Linked DNA regions of Homo sapiens. The protein of the gene in region 1 purifies or fractionates together with the protein of each later gene. This does not show direct contact. Each region holds a gene or a part of one and is shown in the gene's direction. Other genes may lie near its edges. The genes, in order: CPS1 and LRPPRC.

Region 1 (3,826 bases):
TAGGCCTTTGCTATGACCAACCAAATTCTGGTGGAGAAGTCAGTGACAGGTTGGAAAGAAATAGAATATGAAGTGGTTCGAGATGCTGATGACAATTGTGTCACTGTCTGTAACATGGAAAATGTTGATGCCATGGGTGTTCACACAGGTAGGCAAAGTATCTTCAAGAACTATAGTAATGCTTTCAGTTCATGTCTTTGATGGCCAAGGCAGTCTTTATAAAGTTGTTGCCTTTAAATTACTATTTCTAGTTGACAGACTAGTGATAACATTTTGGACAAGCATAGTATTTTACAGTATTGAAAATGTTCTCACATTTAATTTGATCTTCACACAAACCCTGTGAAGTAAGGCGGATATTACACTGAGTTAATTGAGGAAGAGCCAAAGGTAAGCAATATGGTAGAAATAAGATCCATAAAACTTAGTGTTGAGAAATAAGAAGGGAGGTTGAGACAGTTTAAAGCAGACTGAGCTGGTAATCACCCAGTAAATGAGAAAATAGGCACAATAATAGAAATAAGTTTTTCAGAAAAGTACACTAGTTAGATAAGAGGGCAAAGATGATAACTTAGGATTTAAAAGTGCTAAATTTGGGGTGTGAGCAGAGCTGTCAAAAAAGGGAGTTGAGAATGTGGAGATGGAATTTAAGAAATAAAATAGAAATAAATAAGTTGATACAAAGACACTGGAAACTGTTGGCATAAAAGGGGAAATTGAAGTTGTAGGCATAGACAAAGTATTCAAGGACATAGGTATAGAAAGAGGAGAGAATAGGGTTGAACTTTGAACTCTGGGAAACATTTAGATTTATAGGGCAGGGGAAAGAGGAAGTATTACTGTTGAAGATAGAAGGGGAGAATAAAGAGTTAAGAGGAAAATCAGGTAGTACTGTACCAACTAAGCCAATGCAAGAACTATTTTATAAAAGAGCTTTGTTTTTGGCAGTATCAAATGCTATGCAAGACCAAGACTGATTATTTAATTTGGCTCTTTTGGATGTCCAAGAGAACAATTTCATTGCAAAGTCAGTTCTGTGAGCTCTATTAAAAGGAATTACATGGTATCAAGTGGTAAGCAGAATTGGCAAACTTTCAAGAAGCTCATTCATGTAAAGAATGAGAGAGAAGCTTTGTATGGTTGTCTGGCAATGTTGGGAGAAGACTTCCGGAGGCAGTGAAGATCTGAGCGTGTTTGAAGGCAGAAGGGATGGAGACTAAGATTGCAGATATAAGGGGCTATGATGAGGGAAGTGAAGATGGAAAGGGATGAGATACAGAAAGCCAGCTGATGAGCCAGTCTGAGTGATAATATTCAATGAAAGGAAGAACTTCAGAAATAATTTGAGATGAAGAGCAGGGAAGTTGAAGTCAATCTAGTAAGTAGACGATTGAAGCCTTGATAGCTACTTACTAGATAGATGAACTTGGGAAAGGTTAGAGAGGTTTCTAAAAGTACTGTATCAGAGTAATATGGGCAAAACAGGAATTGGGGGAATACCTGATATCACATATATATCCCAACAAACCCTCAGACTGTTCTATGTCTTGCATCGTGCAAGTAGATGGTTAAGTCGCTGAAGTTGGTTATTTCAATATGCCACCAAGTAATGAGTGCTTCTTGGATATATAGGTGACTCAGTTGTTGTGGCTCCTGCCCAGACACTCTCCAATGCCGAGTTTCAGATGTTGAGACGTACTTCAATCAATGTTGTTCGCCACTTGGGCATTGTGGGTGAATGCAACATTCAGTTTGCCCTTCATCCTACCTCAATGGAATACTGCATCATTGAAGTGAATGCCAGACTGTCCCGAAGCTCTGCTCTGGCCTCAAAAGCCACTGGGTAAGACCAGAATAATTGACCATGGGTTTGCAGATTCTTTTCAGATAGAAATGAAAAATTGACAGATAGTGGAAGACTGTACTGCATTTACAAACTATGTTCCCTTTTTCTGTATGTTAGCTCCAAATCATTTATAGCACCCTGAGGACATGATTATTAATGAGCTTGTTGCCAGATTGAGGTAAATTATATTGCTAGCTGGCTTTGTTTGCAGGCTAATCTAAACGAATCAAAATCTAGGTGGCTAAAGCAGGCTGTGAAAAATCTGCTTCCTAATTGCACTTTGCAGATGTTGTTAAAAGTGCAGATTAATCCTTAATTTTAGTCTTCAGCTGTTTTCTTCAGGTGTATAGCCCTATAGCAAATAGTTGACAGAAAATATAGCTCACTTGACTCAAGCATGCAATACACATTACTTTTATTTTATCAAAACTCCACAAGACTGAACAGTGCGGAATTTTTTCACAAGTAACTGTTACAACCAAACAAATACATCTGCTGTCTATGTAACAGCCACTAGCAGGCATGATTGGAGGGAAAGGTAATCAAAACCTTTGGTTTCTAATAATATATTTAGCACCTTACACTTAAATTATGGCATTTAAATGAACACAATATTTACTTCTTTATATTTTTTTTACGTAGTTCCACAGCACTGCGTGGAGTGGTGAAAGGCATGTTGCCCTGTACAGGAGTCACAATTCTGCATTCTCACTTGGTTCTTCTGTTGACCGTGTGATTTTGAGCACATCACTCATTGTCTTTATCAGTTTCCTCATTTGTTAGGTGGAAGTTGTACTAAAGAACTCATTTTTAATTCTATAGTTCTATGAATTATTTTCTCAAACAGAATAACCCAAACTGACATTCTGGATGAAGATAGTCAAGTTCTCAAAGTGTTAGTTTTGTAAGGAGCCCAAAGTTCAAAGATAATTTGGAGACAGAGCAAGGACCCAAACTTGAAATGCCTACATTTTCTGACCATTATGTACTCTCTTGTACTAGCTAACTCCACTGTATTCTTAGGTACAGATATGTATATGTACAGATATGTATATATTTTCTCAAAAAATATTTTGCAGATTCTCATCTTAGTGGAGGTTAAATACAAATAAAGGTTAAACTTTATTTATCAATAAAGCTATCGATTTTGGGTTGAAGAGGTGAAGGTTGAGCGTTGTAGCAATGCATGTAGTGCACAGAGAGTAAATTCTCCTGTGACCTGTGCCTCTATACTTTGTATCATGACTCCTATTATTCCGCAAGTGGCTACTAAATATTGATGCAGAACAGAGAATCAAGTGTCTTATACCCTGAAGTAGAATAATACCAGAAATTTTAAGAAAGACCAATTTATGTTTTGGTCTGTTTTCAATAATTGCTCGAAGAAAAAAAAATAAATTTGTCTTCTTTTTATAGCTACCCATTGGCATTCATTGCTGCAAAGATTGCCCTAGGAATCCCACTTCCAGAAATTAAGAACGTCGTATCCGGGAAGACATCAGCCTGTTTTGAACCTAGCCTGGATTACATGGTCACCAAGATTCCCCGCTGGGATCTTGACCGTTTTCATGGAACATCTAGCCGAATTGGTAGCTCTATGAAAAGTGTAGGAGAGGTGAGTCCTTGGTTTATTACGCTTTTCTTCTTGTTCTCAGTTATTTTGTTAAATTTGTGACACCATTGACAGTGTTAAAGTTGCCTGGATACCATCAACACATGGACAGTGTTAAAGGTGCAATTGACAGTGTTAAAGTTGCCTGAATATTAGCATACTAATATGCTAACAGTCTCTATGTGATTGTTTACATATTACATATGTTACATGGCCATTTTGCTGGATTTGAAGGTCTTCCTATTCAAAAGGTGAGGCCATATATCTGGCTATATAGTATAGATACACATATGAAAACACATTCATATACATATAACTGAGTTGTAATATATTTTATAACCAAATCAAGAAAGTAATATAGAATATAA
Region 2 (3,826 bases), about 170 Mb from region 1:
TCCATCATGGGTTTATCCAGTAACGTTGGAGTAGGGCGGGAAATACTCAGCAGATATTCATTACGGCATAGCAGTTCTGTATTCACTCGCTACAGGAAATAAAGCCATAGCCGAGTCTGCATATTCCTGGAAGAAATAAGTAAAAATTTCAGTGAGATTCTGGAAATGCTCTTTTTTGTATGTCAAGTGTGTAACACTTCAGAATGTTTTAACTGAATTCTTTACAATTTCATCAACCAGTTGTGGCACCTAAAGATAGGGTTGTTATCTCTCTACCCTTGGGATCTCATAACTTCTTGGTATGGTCACCACTTGACAAAAGAAGCAATGTGTTTATCATATTCTAGAAAAATATTCATAGAAATGTAAGTGGAATTGCATTAACCTGTGGAAAAATGCTGGTTTCTTTTAGCTGTAGATTATTGAGTCAATATCAAATGCTAATATACAAGGGACAATAGTGCATTAAATTTAATAGGTAGTTCTGTTATAATTATTGTGAAAATTTTTAATATAGTGTTGATTTGTCAGTGTTCTAATTCACTGTTAATTTGCGGTTTTCATAATATTACCTTTATGTAATTTCCTAGGCATCAACTGTGAAATCTGTGTTAGAATTGATTCCTGAATTAAATGAAAAGGAAGAAGCATACAATTCCCTCATGAAAAGCTATGGTAATATAAGTTTAATTTGACTATATTATTTATTTAAATGGCTTTATTATTTAAGTGACTATATCATGTAAATGACTTGTAGTATAGTGAACTAAGTCTTAGTCTTCAGCTCAAAGGCAGTAATCCTAAATATCAGATAATTATGATATAAATAACTCAGTTCTGGAATATGTTTTTAAACTATTAAGAAAAATATGAAATTATGCATATAACTTTAACATTAAAAAGTATCACTGAACATCTTCCGAGCAGTCCGGGTATATTGAGTAGAATCCCAGGCTCCTGGGAAGACCTGGAAATCCTCTTGGACTTATATATCAGAAACCAGTTCAGTCTCCCCAAGGGCCTGCCACCTGAAACAAGTACACATTTGAGACTCACTTAACTGGCCTTCTTGCTCCTTCAGTACCCTCTCTGCTTGCCTGCTACTCCTTTGAAATGACAGACCCTTGATTAAAAAGTAGCCCAAGGTTTTTACGTCCCAGTTCAAATTCTGGTCTTTTAACCAGTTTGTTCCCTGATTGCCAGACAATCACATATGAAAGGAAATTGTCTAAAGTTTCCTCAGTCATCAAAATAAATGTTAGCATTTCTCAATCATGATCACCTCTCCATCTGTGGCCCACTGATTTGCTCACTGGAGGCATGGGGTAAATAAAGAATTGCTTCATTGATTTTATCTATGGGAGGACAACAGACTCAAGAATCAGAATTAGTAAGTCAGTTCTCTTTTTCCGTCCTTACAGGGAGAACATTCTGTATTATTTCAAAATAGAGCTAATAGTCATAAAATTTATCAAATTTCCAGTAACTAAACACAGGCATACCTGGAAGATATGGTTCCAGACCACCACAATAAAGCAAATATAATGAACAAAGTTACATGAATTTTTTGGTTTCCCAGTGCATATAAAAGTTATGTTTACACCATAGTGTAGTGTATTAAGTGTGCAATAGCATTATGTTTTTAAAAAGTACATACCTTAATTTTAAGATATTGCTAAAAATAGTTAACGATCATCTGTGCCTTCAGTGAGTCATAATCTTGCTGGTAGAAGGTCTTGGCTCAATGTTGATGGCTGCTGAATGATCAGGGTGATGATTGCTAAAGGTTGAGATGTCTTAAGACAACAATAAAGTTTGCCACATCAGCTGACTTTTCCTTTCACGAAAGAGTTCTCTGTAGTATGCGATGTTGTTTGTTAGCATTTTATCTGCAATTGAATGTCTTTTCAAAATTGGAATCAATCTTCTCAAACCATACCACTGCTTTATTAACTAAATTTATGTCATATTCTGAATCCTTTGTTGTCATCTCAACAGTGTTCACAGCATCTTTACCAAGAGTAGATTCCTTCTCAAGAAACCACTTTCTTTGGTCATCCATAGGAAACAGCTTCTCCTCATGTTAAGTCTGATCATGAGATTGTAGCAATTCAGTCACGTCTTCACGCTCCACTTCTCCTTCTAGTTGTCTTGCTATTTCCACATCTGCAGTGATTTCCTCCACAGAAATCTTGAGACCCTCAAGGGGTTCATCCATGAGGGTTGAAATCAGCTTCTCCCAAACTCCTGTTAATGTTGATAATTTGACCTCCTATCAATTACAGATGTTCTTAATGGCATCTAGAAATGGTGAACCCTTCCCAGAAGGTTTTCAGTTTACTTTGCCCAGATCCATCAGAAGAATCACTGTCTGTGTCAGCTATAGCCTTATGAAACATGTTTTTTTTTTTTAATTTTATGTTTAAAACATGGAACGCTTTACACATTTGCGTGTCATCTTTGTGCAGGGGCCATGCTAATCTTCTCTGTATCATTCCAATTTCAGTATATGTGTTGCCGAAGTGAGCCCAAAATGTGTTAAGACTTGAAAGTCAAGATTACTCCTTGATCTATGGGCTGCAGAATGGATGTTTTATTAGGGCACCTGAGAACAACATTAATCTCCCTGTATATCTCCTTCAGAGCTCTTGGGTGACCAGGTGCATTATCACTGAGCAGTAATATTTTGAAAGGAATCTTTTTTTTCCTGAGCAGTAGGTCTCTACAGCAGGCTTTAAATACTCAGTGAACCATGTATAAACATCCATGCTGTCCTCTAGGCTTTGTTGTTCCATTTATAGAACACAGGCAGAATAAATTTAGCGTAATTCTTAAGGGCCCTAGGATTTGGGAATGGTAAGTGAGCATTGGCATCAACATAAAGTCACCAGCTGCATTAGCCATTGAAAATAGAGTCAGCCTGTCCTTTGAAGCTAGGCATTAGCTTTTCCTCTCTAGCTATGAAATCTTTGATGACATCTTCTAATATAAGACTGTTTTATCTACATGGAGTATCTGTTGTTTAGTGTAGCCGCCTTCATCAGTGGTCTTAGCTAGATTTTCTGGATAACCTGCCGTAGCTTCTGCATCAGCATTTGCTGCTTCACCTTGGACTTTCGTGTCATGGAGATGGCTTCTTTCCTTAAACCTCATGAACCAGCCTCTGCTAGTATTAGGGCCTTGCACTGGATTAGGCTTTGGCTTTTAAGGGAATGTTGTGGCTGGTTTGATCTTCTATCCGGACCAATAAAACTTTCTCCATGTCACTAGTAAGGCTGTGTCAGTTTCTTATCATTTGTGTGTTCAGTGAAGTAGCACCTTTTTAATTTCCTTCAAGGACTTTTCCTTTGCATTCACAACTGGCTGTTCCACGCAAGAAGCCTAGCTTTCAGCGTATCTCGGCTTTTGACATGCCTTCCTCACTAAGCTAAGCTTAATCATTTCATTTCTCGCTTCTGATTTAAATGAGAGATGTATGACTCTTTCACTTGAACACTTAGAGGCTATAATAGGGTTTTTAATTGGCCTAATTTCAATATTGTTGTGTCTCAGAATAGGGAGGCCTGAGTAGAGGAAGACAGGAGAATTACTAGTCAGCATCGCAGTCAGAACACGTTTCTCAAGTTTGCCATCTTCCATGTGTATGGTTCATAGCATCCCCCAATTACAATAGTAACATCAAAGATCACTGGTCACAGATCACCGTAACAGATATAACAATAATGAAAAAGGTTGAAATATTCCAGGAATTACCAAAATGTGACACAGAGACACAAAGTAAGCACATATTGTTGGAAAAATGGCATTGATAGACTTGCCCAAGGCA

What was found.
Region 2: the proteins of CPS1 (region 1) and LRPPRC fractionate together in Homo sapiens (co-fractionation; one large-scale study listed by BioGRID). This does not show direct contact.

The regions. Positions count from the first base shown.
Region 1 is NC_000002.12:210,605,099-210,608,924, forward strand, and holds part of CPS1 (carbamoyl-phosphate synthase [ammonia], mitochondrial isoform b precursor), read left to right. Parts: intron 1-3; coding exon 4-148; intron 149-1,632; coding exon 1,633-1,843; intron 1,844-3,262; coding exon 3,263-3,461; intron 3,462-3,826. UniProt on the Homo sapiens protein: Involved in the urea cycle of ureotelic animals where the enzyme plays an important role in removing excess ammonia from the cell.
Region 2 is NC_000002.12:43,891,394-43,895,219, reverse strand, and holds part of LRPPRC (leucine-rich PPR motif-containing protein, mitochondrial precursor), read left to right. Parts: intron 1-590; coding exon 591-675; intron 676-3,826. UniProt on the Homo sapiens protein: May play a role in RNA metabolism in both nuclei and mitochondria. In the nucleus binds to HNRPA1-associated poly(A) mRNAs and is part of nmRNP complexes at late stages of mRNA maturation which are possibly associated with nuclear mRNA export.